4 linked regions of the Homo sapiens genome follow. The protein of the gene in region 3 purifies or fractionates together with the protein of the main gene of each other region. This does not show direct contact. Each region holds a gene or a part of one and is shown on either strand. Other genes may lie near its edges. The genes, in order: SECISBP2L, COLGALT2, PSG9 and APOL2.

Region 1 (6,953 bases), on a different chromosome or scaffold from region 3:
AAATTATTTGTGATAACAGAAAAGAGACTGTTAACCTCAAGTGTTCTGTCACTTCTAAGCCCATTGTTTACTTTAAAAAATCTCAATAAATTTCCTAAAAATAGAACCAGTAAGCCTTTATAAACAAAATGAACTCCATGATTTATCCTTCACATCTCAAAATGCAAGTTTTTTTTTTTTTTTCAGGGGAAAAAATGCATTATATACCAAGCAACACATATTCTTAGAATATTTAACTCTGGCAGTTAAAATTAAGCTAGCTATTTTGATTAAATACAGAGAATACTCTATAAAAAGTGCTGAAAGAGGATACTCCTAAGATTTTCTTCTAGTTATAACATTCTTTCAAATAATCATTATTGCAATTAAGATTATCCATCTAGCACTGTATTCCCAGTAAGTTACTTTTTACAATCTTGATCAGCACACATACAATTTACCTTTTCTATAAAAAGATTTTATATATTAAAAAAAGGTAATTCACAAGAACAAGAACATGAATGCCTTCAGGCAAAAAAAAAGCGTTTTTTTTTTAAAGTTACACTTGTAAAGTACACAAGGATTTAATTAGGTTAAGATAAAATGCAGAAAGTCTATATTAAGTACTACTTTTTAAAAACCAAACTTCTATGAATTGCTAACTACCACAATACTATAATGAGTAAGTTTTAATGCTGTAGGCATCTAGAGAAATTCTGAGTATGTCAACACTGGTCTAAAGGGAAAAAAACATTCTGTGAGGAAAAATGGAAATTGACACATATTACATATACTTTTCAATGACGTCAATCTACCTAAATTCACTTCAATAGTAGAAATACAAAAGTATAATCCAAATATCCTGGAAAAGCCATTACATGACTCTATGGCATAAAGAATCAAGAATTCCACAAAATTGAGAAATCTCAGTTCCCAATCTACTATTAAGTTAATGGTTCTTAGCCGTCCTTTGAGAATACGATGAAAATAATGGATTCTTGCCCTAGAAAAAGGCATATAAAGAAGCATACTCCTTCTAGGTCATTCATGGACCCCTGAATTAACTGCCTATCGCATAAATGAGGTGAAGACATCACTTTTCTATATATATTTTCTGAGTGTATAGGGAAGTGGAGGATTTTCAAATTATTCTTTCATTTAGGGTTAGGCTGGGGAAGAGGCAAGAAGTACTGGAAGAAAAAAAAGTCAACAGAAAACCTTCTTCCATGTTTTTTTCCTAGTTCTTAAATTTCTACAAGGTTTTAATAGGTCGTGGACTTTGGAAAGATGTGGAAAGGGGAAAAGGCTCTCTAGTTTAAATAATTTGCTCACAGCACTTGCTGCTAGGATAATCACAAACAGCTATGCTAAAAATTACCATCTAAATAGTTAATTATATTTCCTCTAGGATGAAAGGAACTCTAAGTATACATAAGGTAGCATTACTGGTTTTAGTCCTGGCATCCTAGTGAAGGAACAAAATGTTGAACCCTTTCATTAGTAACACACATACAAGGAAATGATTCAAGGAAAATTCGTATTCATTTGTCAGGCTTTGAAATCTCAGGTATTTATGATAGATACCTTCAAAAATGTTTTTAAATTAAACTAGATACAGGCTGTATACAGAATACTTCTGGGTCACATAAATGCCTAAGTGTATTTGCCAAGAGACTCTGTATCAATTTCTCTTTGGTAATTCCATGTATTGTTTTATAAAACTCATTTGTGTCTTCAGAGTTACATTCACATAAAGCTTTTTTTTAAAAAAAAAAGTCTTCTGTAAAAACAAGTATACACAACTAGGAAGCTGTGCTTTGCCTGCTAAGAGTCCGATTTCAAAATACAAACCGGCTTCAACTACATATAGACACATACAGGAATTTGGGAAATCTTATCTCATTAATTCAGGTGCTAATTATCCAACTGTAAAATTAATAGGCAGAAATTACTAGCCTCTCTTCTTCCGTCATCTAGTCATCAATGGGCAAGGCCTTCGAAGAAGGGAATAGAGAGTGAATAAACTTGGACTTCAAATTAAGTCGTTTCGCAGAGATCTTAAGAGTGGAAAATACTGGGGGGGAAACTATTGTTTTCGATTACTTTTAACACTGTTATCATCCCTGCCTGCTACCACCTACTAGCATGCATAATCAGGAATTTGATGCAAATAAAAATAAAACAGAACACTAATAGGACTACTTTGCGAATATGAAAACGGGTTCGAAAATAAGCTTATGCTTTACACCCTTAAAATAGAGCTAGCTTTAAAAAAAAACCCACTAATTACAATTCTTTGCAAAATAACTGGATAAAAGGACAAGGGGAAATCGTAGTATCGTTTCTTAAAAGAAACACCTCCGTAAAACCACTGCAAAAACAATGCTTCGCTCCATTGAACACAGACCTAAAAGGCCCGTGACTTCCCTTCATCTGTAGTTACCACACATTCTCTTACAGTCTTTCTGGGTGAGAAGCCTTCAAACGCCTTTCCACCTTGAAAACACATTCCAGAGCTGAAGGGAATGGGGGAAGCGGGGAGACTACTAGAAGTTATAAGCCCTCCTCCCAGGAGAGCAGGGACAACTTGGAGCCTTCTGACCCCTTCACCAAGCAGGGGAGAAGCGGCAACGGCGAGCCCTCCGCCTGGGAAGTAATCAGGGTTGGAAAAGCCCCCAAGTCCCAGGCAGCAGCTGGAACAATGAAGGAGAGCTGGGAGCTGCCAGGCTCCCAGGTGAGGGGGTCTGCGGCCGCAGGACCGGCCCCCGGTCCCCACGTTCGGAGAACTGGGCCTGGCCTGTGAGGAAGCGGCGACCCCAACCCCCGGCTCGGCGGGCCCAGCCCAAACCCGCGTACCTGCTCCGTGGGGGCTCGGTCCATGGTGCCTGCAGCCGCAACGGGCCCGCGCTAGTCGGTGTAAACAGCGCCTCGGGCCGCTTTCTCCATGGCCCCCCGCTCGGGTCCAGACTGGGTTCCGGACCTCCGCCCCTATCTGGCTGGCCGCGACACCGATTCGGCTACGCCACTGGCCGAGGAGGCGGCTCCAGCTCCGGGAGATGGAGGAGGCGGTGGCAGCTTCGGGGAGGGATCATCTGGGACGGAAGCCGAGGAGGGCCCGAATGGGCTGGAGGCGTAGTTAGAAATGGAGGCGCACGGAAGGAAAAGGAGTGGGGAGGAGGCAGAGAGGGGCAGTGGGCGGAGTGACAGCAAATGGCCTCAGCAAGGGTAGGAGGAACCCGGCCTGGCCTGGAGGCTAAGGCCAGGTGGAGGCGCCCAGGAGCAGGTGCCCCGAACCACACGCCACCCCTGCGACTGTTAAACGAGAAGTGTCAGACCACTTGGGACCCAGGTCTCCCGGGACTTCAAAGACCTCTTCAGGATCTGAAACCACCTCTTAGTGATGTTGGAAAAGCTTTCATCTGCCCACCGTACATCTGCTCCTTCCTTATGTTACGCAAATAAAGGGAGTCATGACTATAAAGGAATGAGAATATTCTGAAAATAATGGAGTCTTGCCCTAGAAAAATGCATATGTAAAACGCATACACAGAATGACTGGAAGAGGCCCGCTAGGAAGCTCCCCACAAATATTTATTGAGAGTTAATTCATTATCCAGGTTCATGCCCACTTCTAGGCTCACATCCAGGCTGACCTCGCCCATCTCAGAAATCCTAATTTTATGCAGGATCTGTATAACACCACCCAACGGGTAATTATTTTATCTTCAGATCCTTAGCTCCTTAAGGGCAGAGACTGTCTTGAAACTGGGCACTACCGTTAGCATGGCAAATTTCTTCTGGGCATCTCCTCAGACACACCCTCCAACACCCACACCCTCTGTGAAGATTCAACCAACTGCGGATAGAAATATTTTGAGGAAAAAAGAAATATCAAGTACAACAATAAAATACAAGTAATACAGTTTAACAACTGCTTATACAGCATTTACATTGTATTAGGTATTATAAGTAATCTAGAGATGATTTAAAGTATATCGGAGGATATGCATGGATTGTATGCAAATACTACACCATTTTATATAAGGATCTTTAGCACTCATGGATTTTGGTATCAGCAGGGATCCTGGAGCCAATATCCCCCCTGGGATACTTAGGGACAACTGTATAAGCTAAATTACACTTAAGTGAAGGTAGAGTTGAGGTGGCTGCTGTTTGGGGCACTGGTGTGGAGATCCACAGCTAGGAATGGGAAAGAGATTTTAAGAAATTTGCTTTGTCATGCTTCAGGAGATATCAGTAAAGACTAATTGCCTTTTCAGTTAGTCTAGGTTATTAGTCTGGTTATTAGACTCCAATATGAGGCTTGTTATGTGAAGGCCCCTTGCTGTACTTATGTTGATACAGGTTGGGTATCTCTAATGGAAACTATGAAATTCCAAACCCTCTTGAATCCCAAATGTTCCAAAATTAGAAACTTTCTGAGCACAGACATGACATTTAAGGATAATGTTCGCTGGAACATTTCAGATTTTGGACTTCCAGTTTAGAGATGCTCAACCAGTAAGTATAATGCAAATCTTCCAAAATCCAAAATCTGAAACACTTATGGTTTCAAGTATGTCAAAATAAGGGACATTCAACCTGTATTATATATTGGCCTGCTGAAAGGAGCTATATTGTGTCAGCAAGACTTATATCAAGGCTGGCAATAGAAACATCTTGAAAGGAGAAACATTTATATTTACACATTTATATTTACATTTAAATATATTTATTTAATTTTAGTAAATTTTCTGCCACCTCAAATTTAATATCAATGCATGTGTATTTGAACTGCAAATTTATGTAACATTTGTAAATATATGTGCAATTAACGTAATGTTAGGTCCCTGGTGCCTATCACACACCTAGCTGGGATTCAGTGAATGCTGAATGAATTTAGGGTTGGTTGCTCAGAAAAACTAAGTTATTTATAAGGAGTAGTTATGTAAACTAACAGATGACCGTCCTCCTTCACAATTGAAAGACAAAATAACTGAATTTTCAGATTGTCTTCCTACTGGTGGTCTATAGCCATAATATACCCTCATCTGAGTAAAAAGATAATAGCAATGCACTCATAAAAATACTATAGTACTTTTGCTTTTCTTCCTTCTTCTGAGGAATGATCTGAGGAAATTTAAATATAGGATTCCCAAGGATCTTTCCACATTATAGGATTTTTATGACTGTAAAATTGTTTTCATTGAGAATCTATGTACAAGACATTCATTAAAATTATAAGAACAGAATCATAAGAATTATGAGAACAGAAATGTCACAATGCCCTTCTCATTTAATGTAATCTTTAAAAAGATGGCAATAGCTAGTAGATAAAAAATTAAAATCTGTGAAAAAAAGTAAGACATATTAAAAATACTACACTTTACAGATGATATAAATGAATGCAAATTATTTTATTCACCAATAAATATTTAATGTGCAAGGTACTATGCTAAATACTAGAGGTACAGCAGTTTATGAGACACCTTGAGGGCTGAGACCATGTTTGTCTTGTGGGCAAGACATGCATAGGAGAAGTCTTTATAAGTGAGATGAGTGTAATGAAAAAGGAAGTATAATAGGTGCTACCATGGTAAGGGATGGAAGGTCAGGGAAGGCTATTTGAGTAAATAGCATCTACAAAAAGACCTGAGTAGGAGTTATGATCAGTAAAGGAGAAGAAGTAGGAAAATTGTTTCAAGAAGAGGAAATGGCACATGTTAGCATTCTGAGGAAAGAGAAAATTCAGCCTTTAGTACTCACACAAGCTCATCCCTTGGAATGAGGGTTCAGAATGTGAGGGATAATCCAATAGATGAAGGCCTCTGAGAAGCTCGGAGGGGATAGGACACAAATACCAGGGGCAAGAAAGAGGCCTTTGATGGGAGTAGGGGCATGTTATCTACTGTAACAGAAGAAAGGAAGAAAAGATCAATATGGCTACAGATTATATACATTTGTAAGTTTGGTGCCAAAAGTTGAGGGAATGCCTAATGGCTTCTGTTTTCTCAGTGATGTAGGAGGCAAGGTTACCTGCTGACAATAAAGAGAGGTGGAGTTGTGGTGACTAGGCACTTGTCAAAATTCAGCAAACATATAGTTAAATTATGTACATGTCATTATATGTACATTTTATCTCAAAAGAAAAAACTATAACCAAATATTGAATTCTAGCTTTAACAAACGCATACACCTATGTAATTCAAATCTCTATCAAAACATAGAATGTCACCATTACCTCCAGTGACATTGAAAACTTCTCTACTTATATCAAATGCTTGTCTTATACATTGTTGTTATTCTTACTACCTATACCAAAGCCTAGCATGCAACAGGTGCTCCACAAATATTTATTGAATAAATGAGCTGTAATATTATATTAAATCAGGATTCTTTCATCCAGGGTTGGGGTTTTGTTAGGCATGTGCATTTTATTGAAGGAGCAGGATTCACTAGGGTGCAAGTAGAATTATTATTTATTGTCCTGTACCTTCAAATTCTCTGAAGATGATTTCTTTTTCTGCCTTGGATGAAATCTCGTGAAGGTCACACAAACTTTATTCCACGTCAAAACTTCTCCTTTTCCCCAGCTCAGTCCTGCTTCAAGCTGGAAGCCTGCAGTGAAGGACGTGGCTTGGTCCACTTCAGTTTTGTTTTCTACATTTTTTATCTCCACCTCCTGTACCTTAAATACTCAGATTAGGCTTTTAGATTTCTCTAGGTTTGGACTGTGAGGGGGAGGATGGCAGAGCTTCTCAGATGTTTAATTACTACTTTCCTGCATGTTTACATGCAGCAAAGTCATCTCAGAGCAGTCACTTATGACCCTAGCCCTCAGCCCTTGTGCTTCTGAGGGTTTAAATCTCAGCTTGATCAATTTGGGGAAGAGCAAGCCAGCCTTATTTGCTGGATTCCCTTTTAAAATGGCTTCAGGCAGAATTCCTGGGATCCCATCAATCCCTGGGATCATT
Region 2 (7,026 bases), on a different chromosome or scaffold from region 3:
CCATTGTTTTAGAAATCCATAGTTTGTCTTGCTAAATAAAAAGCTTACAATGGAAACCAACGTACCCAATAAATTTTATTAAAATCTAACAAGATTGAGGAAAGGCAGAGAAGAGGCTTGTACTTTTCTAAAATATTTTCGTATGCTGGCTGTTTCAAGCCTTACATGCCAATTCCACAAAATCCATTTGCAACACAAGAGATGGTCTGACTGTCTGAATACTCTCCCGCCCAACCTGTTTCTAGCACAAGGAAAGCAGTGGCGTGGAAGCTGCATATAAGCTTACTGTTCAATGGTGCAGTGATGACATGAAAAATCCTGATTCCACTTGGCAGCAACTTTCCACTATCTTGGCGGGTGTAAACCATAATCATTGTGGTGTGTGGTGCTGAGACAGGATTATGGGGCTGGCTGGCAACCAAGAAACTAAAAAACAGTCTATTAGTCCAGCAAGGGACTCCGTGTCGGGAATGCTATGGCCCCAAATGTCTACAACCACACTTTTCACAACTATCCCAAGAATTTAAGTTCTACTGTTAGTCTCTAGAAAATTCTACCTTTCCCAAGACTCTAAAATGCAGCAGTTTCTCACTTAATATGGCTTTCAGGGAGAACACCAATCAATGTACCTCCACAGACTCTCCTGTCTTAGAGTTATGTCTCTCTCTTGTGAGAATGAGATACTTGCCTTCACCACTGCCCTCCCCATCTCCAAAACATATACAATCACTCTCAGAAAGAAAAGGGACTGGAAAGAAACAGTCCTACTTCCCTCTTGGCAGCAATTGTATGCACTTTGGGCTTGGCAGTCCAAATGGGGAAAGCTCTATGTAAGGAACCTCCTCTCTGCAGCCTGATGTATCCCTCAATAGGTCTTGAAGTGATTCAACCTGGAAGGTAATGAACTATTCCAATAAAGCCAATGTGTGAATGAAATCAGGTACTCATGAAAATGCTTCAGCTCAGCAGCTTGTCCCAGACTCATCTTCTACCATACTCTTGGGGGTATACAGCCCAAGATCACTATTCTAAGATCATTATTTATGTTATTATTTGTGTTTCTGAAAGACATATCTTCTAAGATGTCTTCAAACATTAATCAGAAAACACTGGAGGGAAGGAGATTATTTTGCATTATGTTTGCAGAGGAACAAAATCTTATCAGTTAAACCAACAAGTCAGGGGACAGGCCTTAGCTTGCTGAATTTGACAAACAACTAAAATAATAATTGTTGCTTCAATTAAGTGAAACACGTTACAAAGTCAGCCCTAGCAAGATGTCATGGAGCTATTATTCAAAGTCTAACTCTGAAAGGATTTCTGTATGGTGCTCCTAGAGAGGAAAAGAAACGCCCTGCAGCCAAATCTGAGGTTTAATTCATGCAAGAGACTTGGCTAATGCCACCTACCACAAATGCTGCATTTTCACGGATCTGAACTACAGAAAGTTCCAGCAAATTAATTACAGCCACTCTATTTATATTCTACCTGACTTTTCAATTATTACCTATAATGAGATTTTTATTTTTATGAACATTAATGCACAGCTTTCCTACCAGAGGAGTAGAGAGCTAAGGGAAAAGTAATACAATCCTGATCCTTTTACCACTAGGTCACTCGCTGGCAGCTTGCCAAGCCTGCTGGTTCCCCAAAGTAGTTACTGCTTGGGTCCTAGGGTTCCTTCAGCAGCCTGAGGTGGGAGCAAAGCTCACCACCCAAATGTCAACATGGGTCAGGCAAGTCAAGTCAAAGAAAGACAGCGGGGACTAACTGCAAGTGCACACAGTGTGGGTCTGATGGGGACTGGGCTGCCTGGACAAAATCCAGGGGACAGCAGCTACTCAGCTCCAACAATAGTTGCTGTGTATGAATCCAGGCCTGGCAAGGTCAGGTGCTGGTTACATGGCATGTTTTGTCTGTGAAAAGTTACCAAGTTATACATTTATGATATATGAACTTTTGGATAAATATTACACCTCATCAAAAAGTTTTTTTTATTAGGGCCAGACCTTCTAGAGGCCAGAGAGACAAGGACAAGAGAGCAGGACGGGTGTTATCAGAGAGGCCTTCAGAGTACCTGCCTGGAACAGGTGTTATATGAAGCTGGCTTTTATTGTGCCACCCAGGGCATGGCTGTAGATAGGCTGGCAGTGTTTAAAGAACATGGGATAGAGAGATGGATTTTAAAATATCACACTTATCCAGAACTGGATATGTAAAACACTCATATTTGGGTTAAAATGAAAAGGATATATGTATATGTATAGAAAGTTTCTAGAAAAATATGAAAGAAAGTGTTAATATTGGTCACTGGCAGGTGGTATAGAGTAGATGGGAGATTTACTTTTTGTGATATTCCCAATCATACTTTTTTTATTACTTTCCCATTTAAAAAAGTCAGAAGAGCAAATTCTTAAAATAACTGAAGTACTATTAAAAATCCATAAAGACCCTAAGGGATTCAAATTTTTAAAAACTAACAATTTTTGATATGCTAACAACATATCAATTAAATGCAATTAAATGAACAAGTCACTCTTTTGAAATAAAAATGTCAAAACATAGAATACATACGTTTTGTAATTCCTGATGAATAATAGCTATAATTTAAACACATATGGTAAAAGTTCTTCATGATATGGTAACTGGGGAATAGGTGTAGTGGCCATACCATAGGCTAATGATTTTCTTTCAGACTTTACTGTATGTTGTTATGCTATGTCAAGAAATATGCAGAAACAAGCCTTATTATTGTCCTACTATAGTCCTATATAAGCCTTATAATGGTCCTACTATACTGTGCCATAGACTTGGAGACGGTGCCACACAGCAATATGACCCAAGTGCACGTTTAAGTGTTGGAAAAAGAACCAAGAGACAACCAGCAGCCTTCTCAGTTACAAGGCATTCATTGTTCATTCCTATGACCACCAGAAACAGACAAGCAAAAGGAACCTAAGAAGCACATGCTTATGTATTTGGAGTCACAAAGAAACTCCCTGGCCTAATCACTTGGATAAAGGAGCTAAAAACAGATCTGAGAAAACCAAACTCTGCTTAAAATACTCCCCATGCTCCTTTAAACCAAGAAGGATATTCATTATAAAATAATCAGCATTAAAACAGCTACACAGGATTAAAAATCTAGAAATCAGTTATCTCATTCCATAATCACCATGGGAATCTCTTAACTGCCCTGTGCTTTAGATGCCTCATCATGGAACTCAATATAATAAAACCAGGGCAACTTAGGCATTCTTACTAATTCTGTAGTTAAGCTGTCATAACTGGAACAACAGGATTGGTGTCATTTATTAGTCACTTCAGTTTTTACCCAGAGGAAATATTCTGAGCTCCAATCATATTTTGAAATTGGAGGTTGCAGGGAGGATTGATAATTTCTTCAATCATTTGGAATGAAGCTGAATTTAGGGGACAACCAAATCTAAGACTACTGATTAAAAAGCCTGAAAAATGGAATCTCTATTTTACCAATATGAACTGAAAATGTAGCCAATACGTGTATGATTAGTGCCACCTTAATCATTTGCCACTAATAATACTTGAGAAATTTCTTTCTACTGTTATGTAGCTATGATCACAGCAAGTGACCTGCATATTTATGTACAACCCACATTTTAGTCATAATCTGTCCCTATGAAATATACCAAAACAGATTAGAGTTCACTAAAAAGTGCCTGAACTAAGTGATGAAATTATCAAGACAGCGGAAGAGAACCACTAAGACCCTTGCATCATTCAAGTGGAAATGACAATTCTTATTTGAAAGAAACACTAGCGTTCTTATCTTCCCAAGTTGGGTCAACCGACAGAAGCAAAAACTAGAACTAATTGGTCTTTTCACAATCTTAAGCAGACCATCTGTACTCGGTCTGCAACATTAGCTGCCTGGGTCACATCCTGGCTCCACCATGCATTAGCCTAGTGACCTCAGGCAAGTTATTTATATTCTCTGTGCCTCGGTTTCCTTCTGTGTAAAGTGATAGAGTAGAATGTAATGGCATCTCCCACCTAGGGTTGTTGTCTGGAGTAAATCAGTTTTGATACCAAAGTGTCTAGAACAGTGCCTCCATGAATGTATCCTTCCTTCCTTCCTTCCTTCCTTCCTTCCTTCCTTCCTTCCTTCCTTAGTTCTTTATTTTTCCCTTCCCTTACCTTTTCCTTTTTCTTTTCTTTTGAGACAGGGTCTCGCTGTGTTGCCCAGGAAGAAGCACAGTGGCTCAATCTCGGCTTGCTGCAACCTCCACCTCCTAGGTTCAAGCAATCCACCCACAGTCTCCCAAGTAGCTGGGACTATAGGTGCATGCCATCGTGCCTGGATGATTTTTACATTTCTTGTAGAGATGGAGTTTCACCATGTTGCCCAGGCTGGTCTTGAACTCCTTGGCTTAAGAAATCTGCCCACCTCGGCCCCCCAAAGTGCTAGGATTACAGGCATGAGCCACTGCATCCAGATAAATGTTAGTTTCCTATACTAATATTTTTTGTTGTTGTTGGAAAGAAGAAACTAAACAAATTTCCATTTGAAGATTTTTTAAAATCTTGATTTTGAAAGGTAAAGGTAAAGGAGATAGGAGAAAAAGGAAAAGATTCAAAAGAAATAGCAACTATCATTGTTAGTAGCATTTATGTAAAAGACACTGTGCATACCTTATATCATTTACTTGTAACAATAACTCTTTGAGACAGGTGTTACTATTAGTTATTTGAAGATAAGGCAGCTATGTCTTAGAGGTTTACTGATGTGCCCACAATCACACAGAAGATTTATGCTCTAGTCTATCTGACCCTAAGCTTGTATATTTCTTCCTCCAACTCTGGTTGATGCCCTCCACGCTAAACTACCAGATTGGGAAAATGAGGAAAGGAGGAAAAAGGTGAGGAAAACAGACTAACAGACAGAAGGGGCCTAAGGCATCATCTGCTTTTTCAGCCATAAACCGAAACTTCTATCTGTAGGGATAACATACAACATTTAATATCAAGAGTGTAATGATAAAATATGACATCATTCTTACCACTGGTGCTGAAAAATGTCACTGATACTAGTTTGGAACAGTTTATAAACACAAAGTATATTAGTATTTCTAGTTAAACAATTATGAAAATGCTACTGATTGGACATTAAAATGTGGAGATAAATTCAAGATAATCCCCAAACAATGCAGAAATAAAGTAGTATGCAAAATGTTAGGACCATCCCCCAGCTCATCACTGTTTATGTTTATGTCAACAGAAGCTCCTCTCTTTATTTAAAAATCCATAAAGCGGTTCCCAATTTAGTATGTTACTTTTCAAAACTCTGCCAAACAAAATGCCCAAATCTTTCTGTAATTACATAGCAGTTACTGCCTTGTGCCTGCACAGACTCTGTGAATCCCAACTGTCTTCCCACAAGCAACAGCAGGCTCTCCAAAAGAAAAACTTAATGTTTCATTTGGGGCAAATGTTTTTCCCTGCGCCATGCTTCGGTTTTCACTGTCATGGTACTTGGCCCCACTCTCCCTAATCATAGGTTTAAGGAGGATGAGGTCAGCCTTCCCTCTGTTGCTAAGGCTACTTGCTCATGGTTCCACTGAATTAAGGAGAACCCACTGAAGTACACTACCACTTGTCACAATGCCTCACAGTTCCCTTCATCTCAGCATATTCCCAATTCCCTAAAACTTAGTGCAGGTTTTAGGACACATGAAATAGATATCTTCCTTAGGTCCTTATCACAGGATTGTGATATTTGAAGGAAAACAATTAGCTTGGTGGATTTTGAGATCAGACAGGTAAATGTAAAAAGCTTTCCTTTTTGCTTATACAAAGTATCTCTAAAATATAAATTTTCCTTTGTTCAGACTAATCTGAATAAACTTGATGCTGACTGAGATAACTGCAGACATTCTTCAACAACAGTATCTTCCAGGTCAATTTGATGATACTCATTTCATCTGTATGTGCAGTGCAGATCTGGTCCAGAACTTAAAGTGAGAAAAATTATCACATAACAGGGGAGTCTGAATGTGATCAATAAGCCAGGTCTCTCACTGACCCATCTGGGACAGAAATCAGATGCTCCTCTAGCCTGTGAGTGGATGAATGAGAAGAGTGAGTCTGCACAGAGTGAGTTATTGTGGTCAGATTCAGAGGAAGCTGAATTCTGTGTGGCTCTGTATTCACTGCGGTTCTATTTTACAAAGTTCTGGGTAGCTCACAGCCATTTTTGACATCAGCATGTGCTGGCTTTGCAGAATGGATACTAATCAGTTTGGCATCTTGGAATGTTGCATAGAGCTTGGGAATGAGAAACTAGAGGCAAGCAATCGGTAGAAGCACCTCAAATCTGTAACATCCTAAACTGAGGTACCACCTCCCATCAGAGTGTTATATCTCATAAGCTTCCCAGCCAAATATTCCCCTAGGGCCAGACCAGAAGTCAGCACTTCCAAAGAGATTCTATGGTACAATACAATCTGTTTGGAGACTTGCAGTCATTAGACCTGCCACCCACTTGAACTCCCTGAGAGAAAACTCTGGTTGATGCCCTATTATCTTTTTTTTTTTTTTTGCTTGTTTTTTGCCTTGCTGATCCCTTTTTCTAGAGCCATCCTTCTTTCCCAGGTTTTAGTTGATTTTTACTCTTCCTTCAAAACTGAGTTCAAACTAAGTGTCCACTCATCAAGAAGACATCCATATCCATACAACTGCCCCAATCTGATTTATAAATCATTTGGTTCTTCCCCAAACCCTTTAAAAGCCATTCAGATCACCTTACACTGCCCAGTAAAATGAATCATATTTATCTGTAAAAAAACACACATATCTAAATACACTTTTTTTCAGCCCTGATCTGGCTGGTTCTTATTTTAAAAAATGCATTAGAAGAATATGCTTGTACAGCCTCTCTGTACCTCAGTTCTCTCACCTGTAAAGTGGTATAATAACAGTGCATATCTGATAGGGTCATTTTGAAGCTTAAACCAGAAAATGAATGTGAAGTTCTTAGAAGAACCACGA
Region 3 (7,579 bases):
CATGACAGTGACATGGACACTTTGGGAAACACAGGATTTCACGTTCAGTGATGGGGGTTAAGATCTGAGGGGGAGGCCTGGACATATTTTTTGCACTGACTCTGATGGTTGAGGCAGGTGATTTAGTTCTGGAATACAGACTAATCAGCTGACCATTTGCTCTCACTCCTCTGAGGTTTGGATGCCTAAGAAGAGAGGATTTGAGCCAATAAATGACTATGGGGTCCTTGGAACCCAGTAAGCCCTCACTTCTGGTGGAGGAGAGGATAGGCCTGTGGCTGCAGACAGACCTCATGTGACCCTGATCTCCCCTTTGTGTTTGTGTGACTCTGGTTCAGTGACTGCACCTTCCTGTGCCTCAGTTTTCTCTCAATCAAATAAACTAAATGGCAAATGGACTGTGGCTTTTCATGCTATCTGTGAATAAATGTTAAATGATTCACAGTCACCTGACCTAATGCTTGGCACAGTGGAGGTTTCACACAAGCAGCATTTATTATTAATTTGCTTCCATGAGAAAGCACCTTATGTCAGATCCCTGTGGACAAGCTGCTACCAGGTACATCTTCTCCCTTCTGTTTCTGCTTCTGGGGACATTAGACTTTCTATGGACTGTCCTAAGCCTCCCAAGGCAGTTGGCTGATGTCCTACAAAGCTTGTCTTTCTGTCCTCTCCACTCTGAGTGTCAGCTGAAAAAGCTCTGTCCTTGCCCAGATGAGACTCTGAGGGCTGAGCCCTGGCTGGTGAACAGCTCCAGGAGACACAGTCCTCAGACAGCTGGTAAATTCTTGGTCCCAGTAAGGCCTGCCCAAGAAGCCACAACCCAGCACTGGCACAGGCTCCTCAGCTTAACTGGAGCAAGGATTTAGGGACAGGGGTCTGGGGTTGAGGCTTCTAGGGCTGAGCTTCTCTGAGAGTATCTCAGGGGTCCCCTCAAGCCAAGCCCTACTCAGTTCTCCAGGGTCTTTCTCAGGGTCAAATTTATGAAGAGGGCATGATGTGCTTGGCTGAGACTGATCTCCTCCTGCTGAGTCCCCCCATCAGACTGTCCTTCCTCTGCAGCGAGTGTCTGCAGGGTCTGGATGCGGGAAAGGAATTCTGATCTGTTGAAATTTGTCTCCTCTGTGTGTGTCCTGCACTAAATGCCCAAACCCCAGCATGGGACATAATGCAGAGAGTGACACAGGCAGAGTCCAGGCCTGACAATCCTGTGTGTGTGAAGTAGAAATGACCCCTTCCCCCCAACACCCAGGGATCATGTGGAATCACTCACAGTATAAGGTGAAGGTGAAATGTCGAATTTCTTCTCTAGTCTCATCACCTCGCTTTATGATGTGTAAGGTGTAGGTTCCTGCATCCTTCCGGGTGACATTCTGGATCAGCAGGGATGCGTTGGAATATACTGTTTCTCTTCCACTGTATGCAGGCCCATATATAATTATTTTACCATCAACTATATACGATATAATGTAATGGTAGAGGTCCGTCATTTCCCCTTTGTACCAGAAGTAGCCAGGAAGATTCTGGGGCAAATTGTGGACAAGTAGAAGAACATCCTTCCCCTCAGAAACTTTGGGTGGCTGGGCTTCAATCGTGACTTCGGCAGTGGTGGGCGGGTTCCAGAAGTTTAAAAGTGATGCTAGGAGGGGGAGACAGCATCAGTTAATATTGAGACCTATGTATTGTGGTGAAAAGATGGGGCCCTGGGTCCTGAGAAGGTCTCTTCCATCCTCAGCCTTGAAGATACACACACGCACACATACAAACAAACACACACAAAAAACGGGCATGTGTGTTTGTGTATGTGTATGTGTGTGTGTCCTACTGTCCTACTAGGTCAAGGTCAGCAGCATGACCCCCATTCCTTCAACACTTCTGACCTTGGCATTTTTCTGTTTGGAATCCTCTTCCCCAGGGGTCCACACGGCCCCCTCCACACTGCCCTCAGGTCCTGCTCACATCAGGGCATCCTTAGACTTCTTTCCTGACACCTCCTTCAGAGACCCTGGGTCTTCCCTTTCTGACCTTTCCCTGCTCTGCTCCCTCCAGGGTTCTTGTCAACACCTGATCTCACATTCTACATCTCTTCGCATGTCTGTCTTCCTCCCCATGACAGCGTGAGCTCCGTGAGGACAGGGACTTTTGTGATCCTGGTTGCACCCCAGTGCCTGGGACAGGCTGCAGACTCCTGTAGATGTGAGAGTTCTCAGGGCCCTCCATGCCCTGGGTGTTTTTTTTTCCCCCAATTGTTGAGGTTTTTTGCTGAGGATAGTGTTTCATGTCCTGCTTATATTTTTATTTGAAGTGTCATCTGATATAGTTATTATTATCATTTTTCAAAATGTGGTGGCCCCGGATGATTAATCAGGAAAACAGAACACTTAAGATTTTCCTACCTCTTACCAATTCCGGTTCAATGTGACTTTCCTCTTTTGACCCCTGTCCCTCTCTGGTGTATTTTCCCCTATCCAGGCTGCAACAGAGCCTTCTTTCCTTTTTTTCTTTTTTTTTTGAGACGGAGTCTCGTACTGTCGCCCAGGCTGGCGTGCAGTGGCGGTATCTCGGCTAGCTGCAACTTCTGCCTCCCGGGTTCACATGATTCTCCCACCTCAGCCTCCCGAGTAGCTAGGATTACAGGAGTACACCACCATACCTGGTTAATTTTTTATATTTTTAGGAGAGACTGGGCTTCACTGCATTGGCCGGACTGATCTTGAACTCCTGATCTCGTGATCCACCCACCTCAGCCTCCCTAAGAGCTGGCTTCTTTTATTTTACAACCCCATCCTCTCCAGGAGACCCCATCCAGTCACTCCGCTTCCTCCCCCTGTCCTCTCCCAGGAAGTTCTCTCCTCACCTGTGAGCAGGAGCCCCTTCCAGGTGATGCGCTGTGTGCAGGAAGGGGCTGGGAGGGGCCCCATGGTCTCTGCTGCCTGTGTGTTCTCCTCTGTGGAGATGAGCCTGGGATCCAGAAGCTGTCTGAGCACGGCTGTCAGCTGTGCTGTCCTTCCTCCTTCTGTGCTGAGCCTCTTCCCGGGGCAGGAGCACTTCTCAAGCTCATGGGCGGGGTCAGTCCCAGGACACCTCTCTGTCCCCTTCTCTCTCAGTCCTGCCTCCTTGTCCCTCCTTCTGTTTTTCCTTTTGTCTGTGTTTCAGGTCCCTGGGAGTTGTGGAGGCCTCTGCCTTTTTCAGCAGTGATTCTTTCACCAAACCTCAACACACACTTTGTGCAGACACACACACACACACACACACACACACACACACACAGAAGAGACACACACAGACCCACACAGTCAGGCACATACCCTGCAGGTTGGGCAAGCACAGTCCTGGGCCTCAGCCTCCTGCTGTCCCCATGGCTCTGGGTTGGGGTGCACATTCATGCCTTTTACCCTCTTTCATCCCCATCTGGCTCTCCCCTTCAGTGCAGGAGGCTGGAGATGCACCAGGTCCCTGTCACAGTGACACCCCATTGTGCTGTGGGTGAGCTGTGTGTTGCCTGGTGAGAGGGACCCTTCCTTTCTCTAATCGTGTCAAGCTTGACTGCAGCTTCCAAGGATGGACTTTCAGGACCTGGGTGTCCCAGAGGAAACTGTCCTTCCTGGAGGTGTGCAGGGTGAATCTCTCATGCCTCTTAGGAGGAGAGGCCTGTGCTGGTTGCTCAGTGGGGGCTGTGAGTCCCATAGTCAAAGGGACAGTTCTCTGTCAGTCTATGGCTCCCTGGGGTCTGGCGGCTGAGCTGGAGCTCAGGGTTTCTCATGTTCTCCCTGACCATCTTTGATGTCCTCTCTTCTCTGCCCAGCTGATTGTCCTGTGGTCACCACACCTTCCCCGTGGTGGTGCAGGAGGAAGTGGGGAGTTACCCAGGAACCCCGCGGGACATGGCTCATTGAGACGCAGGAGGGGGAGCCTGGGACAGAGCAGGGGTTCAGAGCTGGAGAGATTCATCCCGACTTACTCCGTGGCCATGATGGGCTCAGCCCTCCATGTGCTGACACACCCAGGGGTCTGTCCTGAGGGTTTTGACCTGGCCAAGCTGCTGTCTGTAGAGGAGGAACAGGCAGTGACCAGAGAGGCTCTCTGGAGGGACGTTGCTCACACCTGAGAGGGCGGGTGGGGGTGAGTTGTGTTCTGGGAGCAAAGAGCAATAACACCGCCCTTCTCCACGCAAGTACACAGGAGAGGTCTGTCTTCCCAAGGGACAGCTGGGGGTAGGTGGCCACATCCCGGATGGTACCTGTGAATGACCATCACACGCTCTCTGAGCCCCCTGGGGTGCAGGGGGCAGGCAGGTGACAGGGTGCCTGGCTGATTCCCGGGGAGGCTGTGGGCCCTCAGGCAGCCGCTGTTCTGTGTCGGCGCTAGGCTTGGCCTGGGAAGCCCCAGAGAACAGGACAGATGGAGCAGGGGCAGGCATTTAGGGAGCAGTGACAGAAAGAGTTGATGAGGATGGAGAGAGTTCACGAGGGGAAAGCGCCCAGTGTGGCGTCGCGTGCACCAGCGCTGCCCTGGGAGATGCCTTTAGCTGGGCCCAGGGAAGGAGCAGGTGTGTGGGGCAGGAGCTCCCTGCAGAGGGAGTGGTGTTAGGTTGGCGGCCGCCAGGTCAGGGAGGAACTGACAGAGTCCGTGTGGGGAGCATGGAGGGTGCTGAGGACTTGGGCCGAAGTGACCCTGGTGAGGGTGGACCCTGCTGGGCTGTGGGTTCCGCTGAGGGAGGTTGGCATCCCCTGGGAAGGCTCCAGGCTGGGAGGGACTCTGTCGCCCTCTGGTGGACAGGGAGGGAAGTGTGAACGGCAGCAATCCCAGGCCAGGCTGCATGTTTTATTCCACTTCACACGAGGTCACACATATGTTATGTTACAGCTCCTTCACCTTCCAGCCCCGTGAGTCCCAGTCTCTGTGGCTCTACGTTCACTGTTATCCCTCTTTCACAATCAGATGTCCCAAACGCAGATTTTTGTCACCTTCTGTGAGTTTGTGTTTGTGTGCAGTAGGCAACACTGTGAATACCCTGGGGGCAGTGATGCCTGGGGCTGAGCACTGCACATGGGTTTGAGAGCAGAAGAGGGAGCAGCAGGGTGGGAAGATCAACGTCAGGGGGGCAAGGACAAGTCATTTTCATTTTCTCACTCCCAGGGACCAGAACCCAGGATTCTGACTCCAGGGCACAGTACCACACCCTGCTGGTGTCCCTGGATGTCATGATGCTCATAGTGTCATGTTGCCTTGGCATTCATTTTTTAAGGTGTAAGTTTATTTGCCTCAAATCAGAGGCAGGGCTTGGTCACCATGGTAGTTTTCAATACTGTGTCTGGTTCAAGTGGCTCCAGTTGGTGTCCAGAGATAAAATCTTAGAGGCATCTCTCCTGCTTGGTGTGCTGGGCTCCCCTCTCTCAAGCTGCTTTCTTTAAACTGATAATTCTGACATTCGCCCTCACATTTAAAGTGACTACCTCTCAGTCACAGCGTGAGCTCCTGGTCCCAGTGTTTGCTGCTTGCTTTGAACACATCCATTAAAGCTCCCTGCTGGAAACCTGTCAGATAACACCCTGGACTTAATAAAGCCATTCGCTTACAGGTCTCTTCTCTCCTCCCTGCATGGGGTCACTGACCACTGTGTCTGTGGTCTCCAGGTGTGCCGAGTGCTCCCTAGTGTCTGGAAGTAGTAAAAATACTTACATTTTCACGTTGTGGTTGTATTGCTGTTGCCTCACATGCCATCCAGGGCCTGACATTGAGGCTGCCCTATGGGACCTGTGCTGGTTGAGCCCTTGCTGGAGCTCTTGTTTTGGGGCCTTTGATTCTCCTGGGGACAGGAGCTTCCAGCTAATTTGATTGAAATACTGATGTGTTTCATTGACACACTGGGTCAGATGATGTATTCATGGGCTTCAGCTGCCATAACAAACACCTTAGCTTGGGTGAACGATATAATAGAAATCTATTTTTCACAGTTCTGTGAATAATGTGCTATTTCAACCACTTTAAAATGCACAATCAAGTGAAATTAACCACATACACAGTGTTAAATTACCATCACCACTATTTTCCCTAGAAAATTTTTATCATTTTAAACTGAAACTTTGTATCTTTTAAACAATACCTCCTTGTATGTTCCACCCTAGACTTTGATCATCTCTACTCTGTCTCTATGAATTTGCCTATTCTTGATGTCTAATATAAATGGAATTATACACTTACGTTAATTTGTTTCTGACATATTTCACTTAGCATAATATTTCCAAAGTCCATGCATGTTCCAGTGGGTATCAGAGCTTCATTCCTCTTTATGGCAGATTAACATTCTGTTGTATGTGTCACCATATTTATTTATTGATGTGTTGAGGAGCACTTGGATTGTTTTCATATTTTATATTTTGTGAATAATGCTGCAATCAACATTCCCATGCAAGTACCTGTTTGAGTCCCTGGATTTAATTCTTTGGGTATATACCTAGGAATGGAAGTTGTTTCAAATGAGAATTCTATGATTAGCTTTTTGAGGAAAAGCAAAACTGTTTCTCCTTTTTATATTCTCACCAGCAATGTATGAAGATTCCAAATTCTACATAATACTGGTACTTGTTATTTAACATTTTAAAAGAATGGTAGCCAGTTTTGTAGGTGAGTTGTCGTGTCTCATTGATGCTTTGACTTTGTATTTTCCTAACGACTAATGATGTTGCGTATCTTCTCATGTCCTTCTTGACTATTTGTATATCTTCCTTGAAGAAATGTCTATTTGAGTCTTTTGCCCATTTATAAATTGGATGGTTTGTCCTTTTGTTATTGAGTTGTAGCTAGTTCTTTATATTATCTGGACATGAAAACTGCCTATATGTGGTTTGCAAATATTTTCTCTCATTCTGTATCTATTAATTATTTTCTTGATAATTTCCTTTGATGTACAAAAGGCTCACATCTTGATAAAGCCCAATGTATATTTTTTTCTTATTTCTCATGCTTTTGTATCATATCTAAGAATCCATTGCACATTTGAGGTCATCAATATTTACATCTATGTCTATTTTAAGATGTTTTTATGGTTATAGATCTTATATTTAACTCACTGATCAATTTTTTAGAGAATTGTTTGATATGGTGGGAGGTAGAGTTATCTAAATTCACTGTTTTGCATGTGGTTATCTAGTTGTTTCTGCACTATCATTAGAAAGGAGAATTGTTCCTCCATTAAATTGTCTTGACACCCTCTTCAAAGAGTAATTGACCATAAGTGTGAGGGTTTATTTCTAGACTCTCAATTCTATCCCATTTGTCTTTATGTCCATTCTTTTGCCAGCAGCTTCTGTTTTAATAATTGTACTCCTTTGTGAGATTTCAAATAAGAAAGTTCAAGTCCTACAATTTCTTTTGGCAAGATTGTTTTGGCTATTCTGGGGTCCTTTTTTGAAAGGTGGGGAAGCCAATGTTTCACAATTGGGAAAGCCTTTTCTGTCTTCTTCAGGGGGAAATTTGGGAGAATCTTTTAAGAAACTTAATCTAAGTAGGTAAACTGTCACCACTTTATTTGCTGAAGTGCTATGTTAAAGTGTGCATTGCCTCTTGTGGAAGAATT
Region 4 (7,026 bases), on a different chromosome or scaffold from region 3:
TCACACCTGAAATCCTCCCAGACTCTGCCCTGTGTGTCTCTTCCTTAGGCTGATTTTAATCTGTGTTCTTTCCCTGTGATAAACCACAATCGTGCAATAGCAGTTTTCAGTGAGTTACGTGAGTCCTTCTAGTGAATTATAAAATCTAAGGATGATTTTAGGAATCCCCATAGATTTGCAGGTGGTGTCAAAGGTAAGGGTGCCCTCAGACATTGCAGTCTGGCTATCTCTGAGTACTTTGAATTCAAACAAAAACAAAACCTCAGAAAGACAGGAGATCACTTTGCCTGGCATCTGCTCCCTTCCAATGCCTCATGCCCTTTCACCTGGCTGAAGGCTACTGGGTGCGGCCACTGCCCCAGCTGACTGGAGTGGGAGATCTGGCTATTCATTCTGGCTCCACATGGACGCTCCAGCCACCTTACTGCCTCCTGACCTACCACCTGCACCCCCAACCTTCCAGGTCTCACTCGCAGGTGTCACCAGCCTAACTGATGCCTTAGCAGTGACAGCTTCACCTGTGTGCACAGCAAGGCCATGTGCAATTTTATGGAACCACTAGAAGACTCAAGACACTTTCAGAACCATCTATATAAATTGCTAATGCTGAAAAGACCTGAATTTGGTCAAGATGGTAGAGGAAGTGTTTTCCTCCTCGGTTGGGACTTTGTGAGTCTGCTCAGTACCCCTGAAATTACACAAATTGGCAGCAACTCATTCTACTTTGGAAATGGTCACTAAGGCATGCCATGGTAAGGAGCTTCTCTGTGTAGAAGAGAAGAAGGTCTGAAAGGGTAGTCCAGAACTCACCAGTTCCAAGGCATGGGGTGAGAGACACAGGCTACCATGACCCTGTATGCCCATGAGTGTTGGGATCATCCAGACAGGGAAGAAATATCCCTCTCCCACTCACATGTCCTCTGCAAGTTCATGACCTCCTTAAGTTTCAAGCCCTTGGTGCCTCTCTTTCCACACCCTAGTCCCAGCCCTGGTGCCCCAGCCTTCCTGCTTGTCCTACCAAACCAAGGCTGACTCTTACTCCATCCTGACTCCAGGCTCTGACACTGGTCCCGGTCTCTCTGGGCCTTTGAGCAGGATCTTAGTCCTTGGTTCCCCACCTTTGACCTGGAGTTGCCTCTAAGGCCTTCACCACACTCCTATGACATTGAATTGCTATTCCTATTGGACAGAAGACAGTTCCAAGTCTCCATGACATAAGCCCAGAGCCCAGGAACTAGGCCTCTCAGGATCCTGGACCAGCAGAAGGGTCCTGCTGTGTTTGTGGAATTCTTCAGATGAGAAAAAAGGCCCCAGCCAGCATCCCCAGGAACACATATTGTTTAGGTTAGGATTTTTCTGACTTTTCCCAAAGGAAGTCCTGCTGGGCTCCCATCTTCAAGAAGAAGATCCTTAACCCTGGTCTCTTTCCACCAAGCTTGTAAGATGTTAACGTTAACTGTGCACCTACTATGTGTCAGTCATTATGCTAAGCACTTTACATGCATGATCTCATTTTTCTCATAATAAAACTCCATTGATGAAGAAAGGCTGAAAGTGAGAAAGTAACTGGCAAAGTTCCCATCACCAGCAGATGGCAGAAATGACCCTGTTCCTGTGGGCTTCCTATCCCCTCAGCCTGAGGCTACTCACTGCCAGCGAAGGACATGGAGGAAATATTCCTCCTGGAGTGCCGAGAAGGTCATCCTCAAGCCCAGCAGAGGGGGCTGCCTGGAGGAGGTGTGCCTGTCAGGGACAACCAGCCCAGGGGAGATCTGAGTGGCATCGCTGGGGCGCCCCATGGAGTTAACCCCATGGAGCTTACCTGGGCAGTTCAGCAGCAGCCACGAATCCATTCCAGGCTTCATCATCAGTCAGCAGTTGTAGCAGATTCTCTCTGCTCACTTGGTCCTGGAAATACTTAAGGTAATCCTCAATAAAGATACTGCTCTCTAGTTGGAAAGAAGAAAGGATAAGGTTGGAGGATAGTGTAGGGGAGCATAACAGCCATTGCACATTAGGTGGTTACATGTTAATTTTTCCTGGACAACTGTGATGTGGGACATGTTTGATGGAGTCATCAGTGCTATAGAGGGATTGTGTGCCCCCAAAATTCATATGCTGAAGCCCTAAACTCGAGTGACTATATTTGAAGATTGGGCCTTTAAGGAAGCAATTAAGACTGAATGAGATCACAAGGGTAGGGCTCTAATCCTACTAGAGGGCTAGTGTCCTATTGTAAGAAGAGAAAGAGAAACAATAAGGCCAGGTAAGCACACAGCGCAAAGGCAGCTGCCGCAAGCCAGCAAGAGAGTCCTCCCAAGGCTCCAACCCCTTAATTTAATAAACCATCAAAGACAGAAACCCCAAACCCCACTGGGCCCAACTGGCTCTTCTGAGTCCACCTGCACTTCCATCCCTGAGCCTGTGCTTCTGCTTTGCAGCTGATTTGTTTTTTCTTTGACTCAAATTTTTTCTCTCAGTGGAGTCAAAAACCTGGACAAGGCTAAGGTCTGGTCTCTCCTGGATTCGGAGAACTTCCTAAACCCACCAGCACCAATGTGACCAGGAATTTTCCAAAAAGGTAAATCAAAACAGGCAGTTTTGTAACTGCAACCAATCAAATAATGTCCTTATTGCAGTTTCATATTTACTCGATAAATACTTGTCTCTGACACTTTTTCATCATAACATGAAGCCTCTTCCAGTTTGGTTTTCTCAATTCATGAATTCCTTCTTATTCAAATAAATGTTACTGTGCCTCAGATTTTTCTTTGACAAGGGGTATCTGAGATCATGGGAATGAGGCCCTGCCTGAGGCAGTCATCCCTGGTCAGCAGGTGCTTGTGATGGGCAGTGCAGGGCGGGTGCCCTAACACAGATGAGGGGACTGGGTGGCTTCCACCTGGAATCAACAGGGGATAGATAGAGGAGATAGAGGGGATGCAAACTAATTCTTAGGGAGGCCCTACTGTGTGGCAGGCTTTGGCCAGGCCAGGTACCCTTATAATATTTAATCTTCGTGACAACATGGGGAAATATTATTTTCATGGTACACGAGAGGGGAGGTAAGGAGCTCCAGGTCACACAGAAGGGACTTGGAAAAGGCCAGACCGGGGTCCATTTAAGTTGGAAGCTGGGTCAAGCATGATACATTCCCATAGGGCCACTCAGAACAGAGGGGCTGGTGCAGGGCAAGAGCTGGAGGGAGGGGACCGGCCTGTGCTGGAAAAAACCCTGGGTCAGCAGGGAGAAGAGCGGTAGATAAGAGATCAGGGCTGCAGGTCAACCTCCTCTCCCACCCCTCCCCTCCTCCTGGACCCTGCTCTTCCCCCACTCCCCTCTCTTGCTTGTTCCACTTCCTCATGGCTGTCCTGCCCCACTTGAGTCATCTGCTGGGTGACAGGGTAGGGAGGAAGTGGGCACCTGGGCCGTGTCACCCCGAGGAGAGGTCAGGATGCAGATGACCCCCAGACCCCTGGGTCGGGGGACTCCACGTGACCTCTTCTGCTGCTCGGGGCAGACTCATTGGCCTCCTAGTCCATCTGGGTTCTTCTGGGGCTCACTCAGCTGTGGAGGTGCCACCCTCCATTCTAGGTGCGAGTAGGAACTAGCCAGGAAAGAGGAAGCGAGCCTACCTGGGTTCATGGTGCCAGCGGCTGGGTTACCGAGGGGCTTTCCTTGGAGCTCTCCAGTCACTGTCCAGACTGGAAGGTTTTCCTTAACCCTTGAGAACGAGAAAACAAATTGTGGGATCGAAGGTGAGCCTCCTGTGTACAGAGGGAGGCTGGAGGGGCTGGGTCTTTGCAGATCCCTCTGTGGTAGCAGCAAATGTCCAGAGTGTTTATCTCCTGGGGCCCTGCCAGCTAGTATTTACAGAAACTCACCTCGTTCCAGCTTCCTCTTCCCTCACTCTCACACCAAGGCAGGGTCCTCTTGTCCTGTAGGGGTATGAGAAGAAGATAATCAGAGGAGGGGCAGCCATCTGATCATTACAGAAACTACAGAGTCTATACACAGGAATAGAGATGGGAGGGAACATTCTGACAATGACCTGGGCCTGGGAACATGTATGATAACTAGTTGATGATAGCCAGTGTGTATTGTGTGTCTGTGATGTGCATGGCCTCTGACATGTATCTCATTCGATGATCACACACAGGACAGGAGATGGGTACCACTTTCCCATTTGAACACAGAGGAATCCACAAAAGTTAGGGAACTTATGGGTGTTTTCACAATAGTGCTAGAGCCAGGACTTCTGCTTCAATCCCATGTCTTCAATTACTGTGCTCTACTCCCTTAAATATACAATATTGAGTCATGTATACACGCTCATGGTAAATGACTCCTCATTGCAAATCCCTGTCTCACACTCTGTGCTCAACTCTTCGTCTTGGTGAACTCACTGGTGCTGCAGTGGACAGCCTGTGTCCCCGTTGCTTCTCTAAGATTCTTTGTCCCACAAAGACCTGGATCCTGCTAGATGCCGGCCCAGCCCCTGCTGTGGCTGCCGAGCCCTCCTGATGCTTCCCCGTCCCCTCTGCTGTCCTCCCCTAGCTGATGGACCTTAGGGTGTTTCTAATTCTTCATATAAATTATGCTACAAAGAATATCCTCCCTCACGTAAAACTGCTCACATTTGAGATTATTTCCTTAAGATACTTTTAAGAGTAGAATGACTAGGTCAAAAGCTATTAACATCTCAAAAGTTTTTATACCTAGAGCCACTCTGTATGAAAACTGTACAAATTCACACTCAAACTAACAGGATATGAAGATGTCCATTCTTTCAGTCTTACTGGCTCTCAGTAGTCTTTTCTTCAGGAAAACAAAACAAAACAAAACATTATTCCTTGAGACAAGGTCTCACTCCTAGTATGCAGCCCAGGCTGCTGGCAAAATCCTGGCCTTAGGGGATCCTCCCACCCTGCCCTCTAAAGTGCTGGATTACAAACATGAGCCACGACACCCGGCCTGAATAAATGCTGATCTTTATATAGAGGAAAGTTCTTCACATTCTGCTCCTGATTATCTTACCCTGGGAGGTGAGGGAAAATAGCAAATGTTAATCATATTAATCATCTTTAGGCACTGTTTTAAGAAGACAGAAGAGCATTTATCAACCTCCCCTCCTGAGATCAAACTACAGCCATAGTCAAGGCACTTACAGGTATAATGGCACTTAATGTTAATGTGGGCAAACATTGGTGGATTTTGCACCACTAATTGCTCTAAGATGTTATAAATAGTAACTCACAGAACTCTTCCAAGAACCTAGGAAGTGTGTACCATTGGTATTTCCATTTTCAGGTAAGAAAACTGAAACAGATGTTCAGTGACTTGCCCAAGCTCAGAATCTACTACGTGGTAAAGACTGGGTTCCCACCCAGACAGACGGACTCAAGAACTCACGCACTGCCTCTGCACCCTCTGCTGCCAATGAAAATTTAAATGAGGGCAACAGGAGATCAGAGATGCCAAGAGATGTTGGAAAACAGAACTGGCTGAAGAAATGACAACTGAATAAAGAGGGGTGAAGGGAGCTGTGAACCACAGCAATGCCAAGAGGGCATCCAGCCAGGCAGAGTGGTCTACTAGGCAGAGCCTCAGAGAGGGGAGGAGTTCACCAGGCCCACGTGCCATATGGGATTCATGCCAGCCTTGAGTCTACACCAGTGAAAAAAATCAGAGAGTTCATGACTGAAGCAATATGCCCCAGAAATAATATCTTTGTATTCTGACACTTCAGTGGGTTCCCATTCAATCACCCTACAGGGAAGACTGCCAGTAGACCTGCCCCCCACCCCGTTCAATATGAATAGATCTAGGATCAGAAATTGGAGAAAGGTGAAAGTGGGGAAACAGACCAAGATGACCAAATACAAAAGGAGTCCAGAACAAACAAGTAATTTTTTAAATCTCAAACCCATGTCCTCAGGGAGATTAAAAAATATTTTATTCATAAACTTAAAACAAGATATATAGAAAAGAAGAAAAATCAATGAAACAAACAAAAAAAGAGATTTTCTAGAAACTAAAAGGTGATGATCAAATAAACAAGTCTAGAGAGACCATGTGAAAGAAAGTCACGGAAATCCTCCAGAAAATAAACCAAAAAGATGACAGAGGAAAAGGAGCTATATGGGGAATAGAAAAGTTACCAGGCACAGGGTCACAGGGTGTTCTAAGAAAGCTACTTGAGAATGAGCCACCGGGAGGAAGAAAGGGTGGGTGGGTGGGTGTGTGTGTGTGTGTGTGTGTGTGTGTGTGTATGTGTTGTGCATCCATGGAGGGCAGGTGGGGATAACCAAGAAAGAAAAAGACATGGGATCCAGAAAACAGGAAAATCAACCCAGAGAGAAGGGAATCTGAGGATCACAGTGGGACATGCAGTAGGCCTACAAAACGACCAGTCCAGGATGGAATAAAAAGGGAATGGTTCTGTGGGAAAAAGGGACTCAATAGAATACCTCAAAGGATTCACAGTTTGAGAGAAACTGAGGAAATGAAGAAGGCAAGCAGTACAAGGGAGGAAAAAAAACAAAGGCAATTAGAAACATCAGGAAAAAGTAAAGCTGTGCCACAAAACATGTGCAAACATGGTGTACAACTCAGCTCCACAGTAAATAGTATTTAAAACATCACAAAATGTAAACACTCTTGATTGATTTTTAACTTTGAGAACAGAACAGAGCATATAAATATGAGAACTAAATATACTTGTTACCGATTAGTACAAACTTAAAGCACAAAGGTAGCAGTTGGGATGTGAAGCACTGAACGAAGGAGAAGGAGGATTAATATTGTCATCTTTTAAAGAGGGGAGTCAAGAAATACTAGGTAAAACTGAGAGTATAAGAAAGAAAGTTGTAAGTAAATTGTTTACAGCTACAAAGTTGCTAATGGAGGACATAAAACTGGTGATACAATATTAGGAAAAGGTGGAGAGGAGAGATAGAGGGAGTGTACAAACAAGATGAAAATGACTAATAATGACACTATAAGTAATAATGATAATACCGATTC

Evidence for each region.
Region 1: the proteins of PSG9 (region 3) and SECISBP2L purify together in Homo sapiens (affinity purification with mass spectrometry; 3 studies listed by BioGRID and IntAct, with this or other methods). This does not show direct contact.
Region 2: the proteins of PSG9 (region 3) and COLGALT2 purify together in Homo sapiens (affinity purification with mass spectrometry; 3 studies listed by BioGRID and IntAct, with this or other methods). This does not show direct contact.
Region 4: the proteins of PSG9 (region 3) and APOL2 purify together in Homo sapiens (affinity purification with mass spectrometry; 3 studies listed by BioGRID and IntAct, with this or other methods). This does not show direct contact.

What each region holds. Positions count from the first base shown.
Region 1 is NC_000015.10:49,043,441-49,050,393, forward strand, and holds the start of SECISBP2L (selenocysteine insertion sequence-binding protein 2-like), read right to left. Parts: upstream 3,007-6,953; 5' UTR 2,860-3,006; coding exon 2,836-2,859; intron 1-2,835. UniProt on the Homo sapiens protein: Binds SECIS (Sec insertion sequence) elements present on selenocysteine (Sec) protein mRNAs, but does not promote Sec incorporation into selenoproteins in vitro.
Region 2 is NC_000001.11:184,027,717-184,034,742, forward strand, and holds part of COLGALT2 (procollagen galactosyltransferase 2), read right to left. Parts: intron 1-7,026. UniProt on the Homo sapiens protein: Beta-galactosyltransferase that transfers beta-galactose to hydroxylysine residues of collagen.
Region 3 is NC_000019.10:43,266,511-43,274,089, forward strand, and holds the start of PSG9 (pregnancy-specific beta-1-glycoprotein 9 isoform 1 precursor), read right to left. Parts: upstream 3,021-7,579; 5' UTR 2,922-3,020; coding exon 2,858-2,921; intron 1,640-2,857; coding exon 1,274-1,639; intron 1-1,273. UniProt on the Homo sapiens protein: Binds to the small latent transforming growth factor-beta complex, consisting of the N-terminal TGFB1 latency-associated peptide (LAP) and the mature form of TGFB1, thereby leading to the activation of TGFB1.
Region 4 is NC_000022.11:36,229,518-36,236,543, forward strand, and holds part of APOL2 (apolipoprotein L2), read right to left. Parts: intron 4,819-7,026; exon of another isoform or gene 4,719-4,818; intron 3,939-4,718; 5' UTR 3,885-3,938; intron 3,725-3,884; 5' UTR 3,646-3,724; coding exon 3,636-3,645; intron 1,950-3,635; coding exon 1,823-1,949; intron 1-1,822.